Linked DNA regions of Homo sapiens. The protein of the gene in region 1 purifies or fractionates together with the protein of each later gene. This does not show direct contact. Each region holds a gene or a part of one and is shown in the gene's direction. Other genes may lie near its edges.

Region 1 (8,896 bases):
TGCAGATAATGACTGTCTCATGGTAACTCGGGTAACTAACTTCCATACCTAGGCAAGTATAAAGATTTATTTCATTCTGTGTAAGTACTACAGTTTCTCTTTATTTGTAAGCAGTGAATGATTTTTATCTAAAAACTGATTTTCTAGAGATGAAAATAAGTTACACAAGTGTGAGATGAAGAGAAACATACTTTATGATGTATTTAGTTCTAGACTTTATATTGAGAAGTAAATCAAAATTAATACGAGAGTAATACCTTTTTAAAAAGCAAGAAGAAGGTAGCACTGATTTGTATAAGGAATAAAGCAGTCTCAAAATGATATTTGTTGATCTGTGTTTCAATTTCAACAAGAGATCAGAAAAACACGAACAAAATTTAGAGTTTAGGAACTATAGGAAAGAGATAAATGAACTAGAATTGTATCGCTTAGGATGAATTAAAAACAATTTTCAGATACATGGTGGTTTCTTCTGATGAGACAAAAAGATAATTTGCTTAAGGTACATATGAGTATTTTAGGAACATATTTAAGGAATGGTAGTTAATGAGTTACAAAGAAAATTATGGGTTATAAAATACTCTCTTTGGAAAAAAAGTTTTTGAAACAGAGTCTCGCTGTGTCGCCCAGGCTAGAGTACAGTGCGTGGTCTCGGCTCACCGCAACCACCTCCAGGGTTCAAGTGATCCTCCCACCTCAGCCTCCGCAGTAGCTGGGCCTGCAGGCACATGCCACCACGCCCAGCTAATTTTTTATTTTTAGTAGAGACAGGGTTTCCCCATGTTACCCGGGTTGGTCTCGAACTCCTGGCCTCAAGTGATCTGCCTACCTTGGCCTCCCAGAGGGCCGGGATTACAGGTGTGAACCACCTGCAAAATTTCTGGCCTGGAAATTTTTAAAGAAATGGGCCTATTATGAGTAAGTAAAACATAACCACAAATCATCCAAAGCACTGCTTCGTTTCCACCATTTTTATTAAATGTTATTCATCTGCCAATCATTTTCAGTAATTTTTATGTGTGATTATGTTAAGTGGTAATGTGTAGTTAACTTTTGCAGTTTAGCAAAACATTGCATGCCATTTTTGTATAAACCCTAATAACTGTAGTAGGTAACTTTACAGAGTAAGTAATTTGTGTGTGAAGTCATTTAAAATCTCTGTGACATTTTCATTTCAATAATTGCCAAAGAATCTGATCAGTGAAGTTTTAGACAAGAGACATTGATTTCAGTTTTTAGAGCTTTCTGTCCATTCCGACTTTTACTTAGAAATCTTTGAGGCTTAATTTTATTTGATCCCTTATGTTCGTGCAACTTTGAAACTAAAAGAAAATAACCTTATACTCACAAATCCCTTAATAATGAAAAGGAACACTATTACTCAACATGAATTTCAAAATATTTAGTGTATACTTAAAGAAATTTTTATATTACTATTACTTTTAAAATTAGTTTCAGTAGTGCCAGGGTGTTTACGACCAGAGTAGGGTATATACTACATCATTTATAGGAAATGAAACTAAAAGGAAAAACTTCTTCAGTCTTGGTAAATTGGTGAAAACAAGGACAGAGATAGTGACCTTAAGGCATGTTTCACATCTTAGATGCTTAAAAATCTAGGAAAGCAACTTTTCTTAATTTAAGCCTTTTTCGTAAGTTTTTAAATGACTTCTGTTAGTGAGTCCAGGGTTAATGTACCCTAATAGTCCAGGAAGGTCCAGAGCTAGTCAATGATTTCGTTTATCTGTTTTGTGAAATTAAGGCTTTTTTTCCTAAATTATACCATTTTCCTGTTAGCACATATAAGGCATTAAATGACCTTTTTGCAAAATGGTTTTGTGACAGTTAACAATTTTGCTTCTACGTAAGTGTAACAAGATAAAATCAGTTTGTCAGGCCATGACCTGTAATATTACATTTAAAAACACTATGTGCCAGGTACTGTTATAAATGCATATTGACTTATTTACTCATCACCATATTACCACAATTCTGGGAATCGGTGTTATTCACATTTGACAAAATAGGAATCATAGGCTCAAAAAGGTTTTCACATAGTGGTATAGCTGGGATTTGAACCCAAGTAGTTTAGGTCTTTGGTTTGTGCCCTTAAAGCACTGTACCACATTGCCTCTGATTTTATTTAAAAAAATTTTTTCTAGAGACAGAGTCTCGCTTCATCACCCAGGCTGGAGTGTAGTGGCATAGTCATAGCTCACTGTAGCTTCAAACTCCTTGGCTCAAGCAATTTTCCTGCCTCAGCCTCTGAAATAGCTGGAACTACAGGTGTGCGCCACCACACCCAGCTAATTTTTAAAGTTTTTGTGGAGACGGGATCTTACTGTGTTGCCTAGACTGGTTTGAAACTCCTGACCTCAAATGATCCTCTGACTTCAGCCTCGCAAGTATTAATAGCTGGGATTACAGGTGTGAACCCCTATGCCCAGCCTCTGTCTCTTATTTTAAAGATTCATTTTTTAAAAAGTAGATTCACTTTAAAAAGAAAAGAACCTATTTTTCTTTTTAAAGGAAGTCTATTTTATATTTAGTAGCAGAATTCTACCATTTGCCTCTTGTGACTGTTCAGTTTAGATATGATAGAACATGTAGGAAATCTTAACACCTTGCTTCTGGATATTAAAACATGCTTAAAGATTGATAGGTGAATAATTGAATGTACAGAGCAAATGTCATTTTGATCCACAAGTACATTCAGACAAAAAAATTTGAGGTCATTTACTATTGAGCTTTTGAATTTTAATTGTCTATCAATAATCATAAGCTCTTATTAGAGATGATATGGCCCCTTCACATATAGTTTTACAGAAATAACCCATGAAGCATATAGTAAGATCTTGTAGGCTATTTTGTTTCGGTACTTGGTCCATATTTTAAAAGTATGGTATTGGTTTACTATAAGCCACAAATACATACGGCTTTCTTCTTGGACTTAAATCCATATGAACCACTCAGCACAGAAAATGCAAATATGAATGCATTATTATGTTCACCAACTGATTTTTTCCCTAGAGATAACTCTTAAAGAATTTTTGAAGTGAAAGAACATTTAAATTAAGATAGTGGAAGATACAATGATAATAAAACAGTCAATTTTGCTATCTTAGTCTTGAATTTATCTTATGATGTGAGTTTAGAGTGATTCTTCTTTTTTTCACTGAAAATCACTTCATTAATAAGTCATGATTATTGACAAAAGTAAATTGAAACCATTGGGCATATTGGTAGGGAAATAAGGGGAAGATAGAGAACAACTGATAAAGGTTGATTATGTGCATTACGAGATTTGATCCTCAAAAGAAGGACCAAAATATATATATTTATATGACTTATAGATGAGGAATCTGAGAGAAATTAATTTGCTTGCTCATAGTTTACTACCAGCGGACATTTATTAAATGCTTAGTCTGTCGCAGCCACTATTTTAAATGCTTTACACTTACATAGCCTTTAAAGTACATGCTCTTATTACACTTCATTTTATCTTTGATGATTTCAGAGCTGGTTTAAATACCTGGTTTATAAAGATTTAAAGTACTAGATACTATCTAATACTAAGAATAGATCCTTAGTATTAAAAATGGTTTTATGCTGTCACTACTCGAATGTAATTCAAACAATATTTCATTAAACCATGGGAATTTCTCTTTTTTCTTAGTCCTTGTATAGAATTTTTCAACAATTACTAAATACTTTTTTTCTTCCCTGAGTAATGTCAGTCTAGCTTGTTTCTTTTAATTTCCTCACTTACCACTGTAATTCACATTCTGTGTCTCATATTCATTCCTCTGAAGCCACTTCGCCAGACTCGTTCTCCCATTTATCCTTTAAACAGGGGAATGTAGATCCTTTAGATTTTATCACCCAGTTTACACAAAAGTCACTATTCAAGAAATCTAGCATAAGCCTAGTAAGTAGCCTCAGTTTTGGATACAGATTAAAATTATTTGAGGGAAGGGTCAAAAATGGCTCCTTACAAAGAAGGAAATAAGTTCCAATTATAATATAAAACAGAAAACCCCTGTAGGATTAACCTGCATTTGATTATGTCTAGACTGCCTTTACTACTTCCATCACTAAGATTCTACATGGTTTCCTTATAGCTCTCCAAAAAGAAAAGAGTAATGATGCCTTTTTTTCCTCCAAGGAATGGAGAACTAAGAATGCTAACTGTCCCTTCCATTCTCCCTTTAGTTTTGAGAAGACCCAGATATTAGCGTGGTAATTCCCCACCATAAGAGAAAATCATTTAGCAGAAGTACCAGTAGCAAGGACTTCTTTGTGAAGGAAGTCAAAGATCTCACAAAGAAGTTCAAGGGTGGCTCTGAGGCCAGGGTATTCTAAGTTTAGAGCCAGTTAAATCAAGACCTGAGAACATTTAGAGACAAAGTTACTTAACTGAAAAGAGCATCAAGTTCCTTGTTCCAGGTAGAAAACACCTGGTAATCTGGATTGATTTCTGTTATTTACCCATATGTTTTTACAGCTTAACAAAGTTTAACAGGTTAGTCAAGAGATTTGCCTTTGATAAAAAGATGGGAAATTTATATTCATACATTTGAATGGATTTCAAGCTGAAGAACTTTTTAATTCTCAGGAGAGATGTAGCTAAGTATTTATATGTACCACATAGTTGTGGCTATGGTTTACAATAACTTATTACTCATTTACTATGTTAAGAGCATTTTAAAAGTTCTCTAGATACAGGTTCCATATATAATGTAATATATTTATTCCAAATATATTACATATATGAAATACATGGTAGTATTCTCATTTTACCAGTACAGAAACTGGGATAGTTAAATGTATATGGTCATAACACTTAGTCAGTGGTAGAGCAGGAGGTCTAACTTAAAGCTTGCATTTTAAATTCTAAGTGTACTGCCTGCCTATGTGTGATAGAGCCATACCCAGATTATGGAAGCAACTTTTTGAAAGACAAATACTTGAAAGTATTAAAATCAAGAAATGACAGCTTTGTAATACTTGTTAAACACATTTTCATTTGTTATTAATATCAAGAGCCTCTAGAATTTTGTGAGTCTTCTTGTTTTAGCCTTGTAGTCTCAGCAGTCTCATTTCTAATTAACATATCTCTGTTTTGATACAGATAGTGTCTCCCATTTCCTGCAAATTATTTGCTTTTTCCTGCTTTTGGGGCCTTTATGCCCCATTTCTGTTGTTTCAGATACTTCTTAAAAATTACTGACTTTCATTTCAAAACCTAGTTCAAAGTCAGTCTCTAAAACCACCTCTAATCTCATCCAAATTTGTGGCCCCTCCATTCTTTGCTTTTAAAATATATATGTATATATAAAACAGCTTTATTGTGATGCTATTCACATACCTTACAATTTGCCCACTTAAAGTGGACAGTTCACTGGGTTTTAGTATACTCGAAAGAGTTGTGCAGCCATGACCATAATCAATTTTGGAATCCAAAAAGGAACCTCATACCCATTAATAGTCACCTCCCATTTCTCTCCCAAACTCCTCTGTTCTAGGCAGCTACTAATCTATTTTCTGTCTTTATATATTTGCCTATTCTGGATATTTTATATAAATGGAATCGTATAGTATGTGCGATTTTTGCATCTTGCTTCTTTTACTTAGCATACATGTTTTCTAGGTTCATGCATGTTATAGCATATATCAATGTTTATTTTTACTGCTGAATGATACAGTCATGAGTCACTTAATGACAAGGATAACTTCTGAGAAATGTATGGTTAGGCAATTTTGTCGTTGTGTGAACATCTTAAGGGGGTACTTACACAAATCTAGATGGGATTGCCTACTACATACCTAGGATGTATTGCCTATTGCTCCTAGGCAAAAAAAACCTGTACAACATGTTACTGTAGTGCATACTGTAGTCAATTCTAATACAATGGTAAGTATATATATATGTGTGTGTGTATAAATATATATATGTGTGTGTGTGTATATATATATATCTAAACATAGAAAAGGTAGAGTAAAAATACAATATTATGATCTTTTTTGTTTTTAGAGACAGGGTCTGGCTCTGTCACCCAGACTGAAATGCAGTAGCCCAATATTGGCTCACATTGCCCTTGATCTCCTGGGCTCAAGCAATTCCACTGCCTCATCCTCCCAATTAGCTAGGACTACAGGCAAGCACCACTGTGTCTATTTTTTATTTTTATTTTTTTGTAGAAATGAGGATCTTGCTGTGTTGCCCAGGCTGGTCTTGAACTCCTGGCCTCAAGCACTCCTCCCACCTTAGTCTTCCAAAGTGTTGGGATTATAGGCATGAGCCACTGTGTCTAGCCAGACATAATGTGTCTGTTATTGACCTAAATGTTGTTATGTGGTATGTGACCATATTCCATTGTATAGATATAACACATTTGATATATCCATTTATCAATTGATAGACATTTGAATTTCCAATTTTTGCCTATTTTGAATAATCCTGCTATGAACATCCATTACAAGTTTTCATTTCTCGTGTATATACCTGTAAGTGGAATTGCTAGGTCCCTGTTTAACTTTTTAAGGAACTGCTAGACTGTTTTTCTAAGTGGCCGTAATTTTACATTGCCACCAGCAGTGTATGAGGGTTCCAGTTTTTTCACCTCGTCAGCACTTATGTTCTTTTTTTTAATATATAGCCATCTTAGTGGATATGAAGTAGTATCTCATTGTAGTTTTGATTTGCATTTTCTTGATAGGTAATGATGTTGAGTATCTTTTCACCTGCTTATTGGCCATTTGTATGTCTTTTGGATGTCTGTCCAGATTCTTTGCCCATTTAAAAAATTTGGTTATTTTGTCTTTTTATTATTGCATTGTAAAAGTTCTCTAGATACAGGTTCCTTATTAAATAGTTAATTTACAAATTTTTCTCCCATTCTGTGGATTTTCTTTTTACTTTCTTGGTAGTGTCCACTGAAACATGGAAGTTTTTATTTTATTGAAATTCAATTTGCCTGTTTTTTCCTTTGTCACTTTTGCTTTTGGTATCATGTCTAAGAAGGCTTGGCTTAACTCAAGGTCATGAGGATTTACTCATATATTTTCTTTTCCAAGTTTTGTAGTTCTGGCTCTTACATTTAAGTCTGTAATTCAATCGAGTTAATTTTTTGTGTATATGGTCAGGGGAGGAGTTCAATTTCATTCTTTTGCATGTGGTTATCCAGTTGTCCCAAAACTATTTGTCAAAAAGATCATTCTTTTCCCTGTGCAATTATCTTGGTACCCTGCTTGAAAATCAATTGACTGTAAAAGTGAGGGTTTATTTCTAGATTCTATATTTGATTGACATATACCAGTACCAGATTATAACTGTGTAGACAGTTTTAAAATCTGGAACTGTGTCCTCCAACAACTTTTCAAGTTTGTTTTGGCCCTCTTCTCTTATTAGTTTACACTATGTTGAAATGTTGTTTTGTAAATATTCTTAAATATGTGTATTTCATTACTCCGTATAAATGACACACTCATCTTTTTGCAGCCTGTCTTCTTACCTTCTCTCATTCGAAATCTACCCCATCTCTTTATTTCTTAGAGGTATGTGGTATAGTAGTATTTGCAGTGAATGTTTTGTGTCATTTAACCCATGGATCTCTCTTCCACTCCTAATCTCATGCCCCAAAAGCACAAACAATGCGCTGTCTTAAGAACATAGATAAGTGTGCTAATTATCAAAAACACATTTACAGTACCTGGAAAATGTAAGACAACACCCTCAGCAGATGAAAATGACCTGGCATCCTAAAAGGAGGCTAAACTCACATTAATCCTTCAAATGAAAAAATCGTCACATCATACCCTTTAAATAATGCTTTAAAACATTCAAAATTATTTATGAATAATTATTTATGAGTCTTTGTGGAAATGCAGTTATGCAAGAAAAGTATAAAAATATTCATGGAATGATAAATGCTAAATCAGAGTAAGGGTATTCCAAGAGAGGGGCCCACAAGGGGCTATATTAATATTTATGATAATTTTCTTTAGGTGCTTGTTTTGATGGTATGTATATAGATGCTCGTTATTATTCGAAGTTTAATGTATGCCTTTATATGATACAAAATACTTTTAAAAAGCGAAGTTGATTGTAAGAGCTTTTTATTTTGAGGAAGTCCCAATTTTTCTTAGTTTTTTCTGTTTATTATTTTTATATTGTTAATACCAAACCTAATTCTCCCGGTGTAGAAAAGTTACACAGAGCTGAGAGAATTTATGTAGAGTCAAGCATTATTAATTATCATTTCCTTCTTGCTTCATATATGCTTATCACGCTTATATGTCACATATGGTTACAAGATATCTTTAGTATGGAGAGACATACACATTTAAGATATTAATGGTCATGTATGTGTATTCTGGATGAATAGTTTAAAAACAATCTTACTTGGCCTCCTTGAGTTTCTTATTTGTCTTAGTTTAGATCTAAAAAGAGATCATAAAAATTATTTATTGCTAGGTGATGGATTTAATGTGTGGAGAAGAAAATAGGTTAGAAGTGCATGGAATCTAAAAATTAAGCTATAAAGAGATGGTAAACTATTCCATTGGTTTATTTGAGTGAATTTCATAGTTTTATTTGTTTCAGTTTTACTGAAACCATGAAATTCTGAGTCTTAGTTTGTGGTACTTAAAAAAAAAGTCAGTGAAATATCTGATTTATAATAATTTAAAATACTAGATGCTGCCAGTATCTCCTTAGTGTTGAAAATTGTTTTATGCTATCACTACTCAAATATAATTTAAGCATTTTGTTAAATAAGAGAATTAGTCATAAGAGTGAATTAGTATCCAGAATTGTTTATGCCATTCTGCACAAGATGATTATAAATATTTTTCTGAGATTAAGTGTGCTACATTGGATTAGGCTGAGATTTTT
Region 2 (5,434 bases), on another chromosome or scaffold:
TTGGGAGGCCGAGGCGGGCAGATCATGAGGTCAGGAGATCTAGACCATCCTGGCTAACACGGTGAAACCCCATCTCTACTAAAAATACAAAAAATTAGCTGGGTGTGGTGGTGGGCGCCTATAGTCCCAGCTACTCGGGAGGCTGAGGCAGGAGAATGGTGTGAACCCAGGAGTCGGAGGTTGCAGTGAGCTGAGATCGTGTCACTGGACTCCAGCGTGGGGGACAGAGTAAGACTCCGTCTCAAAAAAACAAAAAACAAAGAAACCCCAAAAAACAGCATCACACGGGAGGAACTGGAGAGGGAGAACAGGAGGGGAGGGCTTAGGGCTCAGGAGGCAGGAGCAGCTCCAGGGCAGGTGTCACTGGGGCCCTGGACAGAAGCATTGGTGGGCCGTGACTCCACATGCCTGAGTCACCAGGCTCAGACCAGTGCCTCCTTCCTGTTCCACCCTACTCAGGCTGTAGAAGCCGCCCAGCTGGCCGAGGACCTGAAGGTGCAGCTGGAGCACGTGCAGACTCGGCTGCGGGAGATCCAGCCCTGCCTGGCAGAGAGCCGGGCTGCTCGTGAGAAAGAGAGCTTCAACCTCAAGAGGGCTCAGGTGTGTGCAGGGGTGAGGGGCCAGGCCAGGGTGGTCCACGGTCACGGACCTATCCTGGGGGCAAGCGGCTCAAGGTTGAGGACCCTTGCCCTTAGCCAGGCCTCTCCTGCCCCAGGAGGACATCTCACGGCTGCGGCGCAAGCTGGAAAAGCAGAGGAAGGTGGAGGTCTACGCAGATGCCGACGAAATCCTCCAGGAGGAGATCAAGGAGTACAAGGTGGGGCTGTGGGCCAAGTTGTGCCCTATCCACCTGAGAATTGTAGATGCAGGATTGCTGAGACTAGTGGAGAGTCTGGGGACCCTGGAAGTAATGTAGGGCAGCAGAAAGTGGGCAGCACAGTGGTCACAGAGTCAAATGCTGTTTGCTGTACATGTACTGTGAGCCAGGCACAGTGCTTGGCTGGGTGTGGGTTGGGAGGCTAGGAACTGGCCCTGGTCTCTGACTTCTTGAAACTGACAGTCAGGGGAGGAGGCAGCCAAGTAATTCTCTCATCCCAGATGTGTAATATGATGGCAGAGGCCAGAGGGGCTGAGGGGACTCAGGGGAGGCCCTTCCCCTGGCCCTGGGGTCAGCAGGCTTCCTGGAGTGAATGTCACCACAGCAGACCTGAAGAATAGGCCAGACGTGGCTGTGAGGAACGGGAGTGAGTAGCTTTAGGCAAAGGGAACAGCAGATGTGGACGCTTGAGCGGAGGGGTTGCTGGGACAGCACCGGAGGTTGTAATCAGAGGAGCCAATGTGGAGAGGTTGGGCCGTGTCACCTCCTGAAGAGTGCGGTACGCCAGGTTGAGACCTCAAAGGGTTTTAAACAGGAGAGTGATGTGGTTAGATTTGTTGTTGGTTTTGGGCTGGAAGAGGTAGACTGGAGGCAGGGAAATTGTTAAGGTATTGCAGTCACTGAGGCAGAAACCAGAGTAGATGGGTTCAGGAGACATTTCAGAGGCAGAATTGCTTGGACTCGGGGGTGGATCGAATGCATGGAGTGAGGGAAAGGGAACACTTGGAGGACTCCTGGTTTCCTGGTTTGAGAAACTAGGTGGATAGTTAGTACCATTTAGGGGGTTAGGAGGCCTGCGGGGGAGCAGGTTCTATGGGATGGTGTCAAAGGATGCTGAGAAGGTGCCTGTGGGACCCCTTTGGGAGGCTGGGAAGGTGCTCAAGGCAAAAGGGCCGGGCTGGAGAACAGGCTTGGGGAATGTCAGTAGAGGCAGAGGTGGAAGCCACATATGACTTGGTCATCCCTTGGAAGCAGTTGAGCCTTGAAGGGCAGAGGCAGCTGGAGGCAGCCATGGGGTAGAGGCAGGCTTGGGAGCCTGTTCAGTGCTGGTGTGTAGGGTCCTGGGAGACAGGAGTGATGGCAGGGAGGCTGCTGAGGCGGCAGGCTGGGCTGGGATTTTAGCAGGCTGGAGGAGCACTGTTGGGGGATGCTGAGTTGAGTCAATCCATGTCTGGAGTTGGAGGTGAGACCCTCCTGGTGGCGGAAGAGAGGTCTCAGGCTAAGAAGGGACCCACGGCAGGGTCTCTGGCCAGTGTCGAGGCTGGGCCCAGTTGAGGGTAGAGAGAACAGATTTCTAGTTGCATTGCCATTCCAGCTGTGACTTAGCAAGTGCAGGTGAAGAGGTAGACAAGATTGGGATTTCACCAGAGGCGGCCAGTGGGGCAGGAGATGAAGCCCCAAGGCAGAGTCCAGGCTGGGCCTGTGGGTCCTTGTCCTTTTGAGGGGACACATGATAGCCATCACTGCCCAGTGATGAATCCGGACTCTGCTGATTTCTAGTGTTGAGACCTTGGCCTCTGCACCTCAGTTTGCTCATTCATAGAGTGCTCGTCCTTACCTCCAGGGTTATGGGAGGATGAGGTGCAGTCTCCAGTGTGGTGGGCTTGGCCTGGACTCCTCCTGCTGTCAGCTTGGGGTCTGGGCACTGTCAGAGTTGTTCCCAAGCTGATGCCTTTGCCTGGCCCAGGCGCGGTTGACCTGCCCCTGCTGTAACACCCGCAAGAAGGATGCAGTCCTTACCAAGTGCTTCCACGTTTTCTGCTTCGAGTGCGTGCGGGGCCGCTATGAGGCCCGCCAGAGGAAGTGCCCCAAGTGCAACGCGGCCTTTGGTGCCCACGACTTCCATCGTATCTACATCAGCTGAACCTGAAACTCAGGGGACTCTGGAACACCATGGACCCTGGGGGCTGTGCCCCCATCTCCTCCCCACCCCAGGTCTAGTGGCCCCACCCTCCATTCCGGACCCCATGGGCCCAGCCCCTGCCCATCTAGTTGGTTTGGGGACCCTGGTGCATGCTAGTGGGCATGGGATCAGCCAAGCTTCGTTCCATCTTTTCCTAAAGGTCAGAGCTGCAGCCTAGGGGGCACTGCCCTACAGAAAAGGTCTGCCTGAGAGGCCTGAGGAGCCCAGAGCACTTGACTGAGCTTCCCGGAAACTGGCCCTAACCTGTCTGTCTCCGTGGATGCATCCTAACCCTAAGGAAAATTCCCCAGGCTGTGATCTACCCTAGAGAAGGCTCGCTCCCTGCCTACTGGCTCACAAATGAGGACCAGTGAGCCATGTCCTTGTTCCTTGTTTGAGACTGGGCTGCAGGCCCCAGGAAGACTTTCCTTCACCCACCATCCCCCTAACCTCGGCAGGGCTTCTGTCCTGTGGAGTTCCCTGGACACCTTGGTCTGGCTCTTGTGCCAAGGGCTGAAGGAGGTACCCTCTTGGCAGATGGGGGCATCACTTGCTTCCTTTGGGAAGCTCTAAGGTTGCTGCAGTCACCTTCCTCATCTTGCAGGTGCTGAACCAACATCATCAGTTTCTATTCTAATCAGGCCCCTTCCCAATCTCCATTTCTCTGCCAAGCCCATTTACCCCCACCTCATGCATCCCAAGGCTCTACTGGGTCCCTGGACCTAACCCTGCTTTCATCCTGGTGGCCTTAACTACAGTGGAGGTGGAACTTCCCAGGAGGGGAAGGGACAGACCAGCCCCAGCCGCTGGGCCAACTTCCAATCATTCCAGCTAGAAGAGCTTCCCCCTGACACCCTGTGACTGAGCCTGTGTCCTGTCTGCCTGCCCAGCCATGCTCCATCGGCTGTGAGGGCAGTGCCCGGAGAGGCCAGAGGGTTGGAGCTGCAGGGACCCGTTTGGACCCACAGCCTCTGTTCTAGAGATGCTTGTATAGGCTGTTAATTGTGATGAATAAACGTTCAACCCTCGGCCTGCAGCCAGAGTAGCCAGGCCGCGCACCCCAAATGTAGTCCCCCGATTTTAGCTGCAGCAGCTGAGCAGCACTTTGCTGGCTTGGTGTGAGCCTGGGAGGGCTCAGACTTAACGGCCGGCAGGGATCCCGGACTGGGCCTGAAGGGGAGAGCGTGGTGGTCGTCGCGGAGCCGCCTGTCCTGCTCCCACCGACCCCGGTCTGACCACGTCCTTGGCTGTCATGGCCGGGGGATGCCGGGACTCCTCGGGCTGCATCCTGGGAAGTGTAGTTCCTGGTCCGCACATGGTTAGGAGGTTCTCGGAGAGAGAGCTAGTTTCCCGGTTGCGCTGGCCAAAGGCCGGCCTGAACTGGATCCTGCGGACCGCTTCTCAGCGGCTTCACCCCCACACCACTCGAATGCACAGATCGGGACACCTCAGCTGGGTGACTTCCCTCGTTGCAATCGGCCTCGGGAGCGGTGCGGCGTGTACCGAGCGGCGCCCCTGGGCTCAGCGCGCTGCAGGCGCCCCGGGCGGATCCTTCACCGAGGCAGGACTGGGGCTGGCGCCAGAGCCGGTGCGGAGCGGTGTTGGTTCAGGCGCTGGCGACAGTGCTATGGCCACGGCAGGGGCCGCGTGCGTCTCAGCGGTGGCGCCTTCGGACCCTATTGGCGCCCGGGACTTAAGCGGGGCCGCCGCTGCTGGACCAGGACGAACTGGAGAAGGAGACGCGGGCCGCCACGGTGACCTCGGGCGTAGGGCCGGCGGCGGCGGGCACGCTGGTGGAAGCGCGGGCCGCGGCAGGGGAGGACATCGGGCCGCAGAGAAAGTGCCGATGGCCTGGGGCAGCGGTGCGAGGGTGGGAAAAACGCAGGATATTGCATCATAGAGACGCGGCCACCTTCGCCCCTGGAGAGCGCCAGTCTCAGGAGCGCCGCACCGGTCACGGGTGGAGGTCAGCCAGGCCTCCGTAAGCGCGGTCCCCTTCCAGGAGTAGCCTTCGCCTGGGCTCTTGAGTAGATGCCAAGTAATTCCGCATCGTCTCTCTAGATATCTGCGCTAAAGGCCACCCGGTCTCCTTATCAGAGGGGCAAAACTCTCCTCGTGGGTCTTCATACCTAATAAAAGTCGGCATCAAACCACTTTTTCAAGGTCAAGTCCAAGGGAACGGGGTGAAGATCCCACAATGTCAGTGAGGCAGCAACCACTGATGTGGTGGCAGGAACCAAACCTTTTTTTTTTTTTTTTTTTTTTGAGACGGAGTCTCACTCTGTCTCCCAGGCTGGAGTGCAGTGGCACGATCTCGGCTCACTGCAACCTCTACTTCCCGGGTTCAAGCGATTCTCCTGCCTCAGTCTCCCGAGTAGCTGGGACTGCAGGCGTGCACCACTGCGCCCAGCTAATTTTTGTATTTTTAGAGACAGGGTTTCACCATGTTGGTCAGGCTGGTCTCAAACTCCTGACATCATGATCTGCCTGCCTCGGCCTCCCAAAGTGCTGGGATTACAGGCGTGAGCCACTGTGTCCGGCCAGGAACCAAACTCTTAATAAACATTTCCCATGAGGCTCCGGTGCCGGGAGGATTTGCCTTAATTTTTTGACTGCTTACCACCCCTAGTGGTCCCAGTGGCAGCGGTACCCTG

The links. The genes of interacting proteins can lie anywhere in the genome.
Region 2: the proteins of USP15 (region 1) and RNF40 purify together in Homo sapiens (affinity purification with mass spectrometry; 4 studies listed by BioGRID and IntAct, with this or other methods). This does not show direct contact.

The regions. Positions count from the first base shown.
Region 1 is NC_000012.12:62,263,404-62,272,299, forward strand, and holds part of USP15 (ubiquitin carboxyl-terminal hydrolase 15), read left to right. Parts: intron 1-8,896. UniProt on the Homo sapiens protein: Hydrolase that removes conjugated ubiquitin from target proteins and regulates various pathways such as the TGF-beta receptor signaling, NF-kappa-B and RNF41/NRDP1-PRKN pathways.
Region 2 is NC_000016.10:30,771,374-30,776,807, forward strand, and holds the end of RNF40 (E3 ubiquitin-protein ligase BRE1B), read left to right. Parts: intron 1-459; coding exon 460-600; intron 601-715; coding exon 716-817; intron 818-2,564; coding exon 2,565-2,741; 3' UTR 2,742-4,934; downstream 4,935-5,434.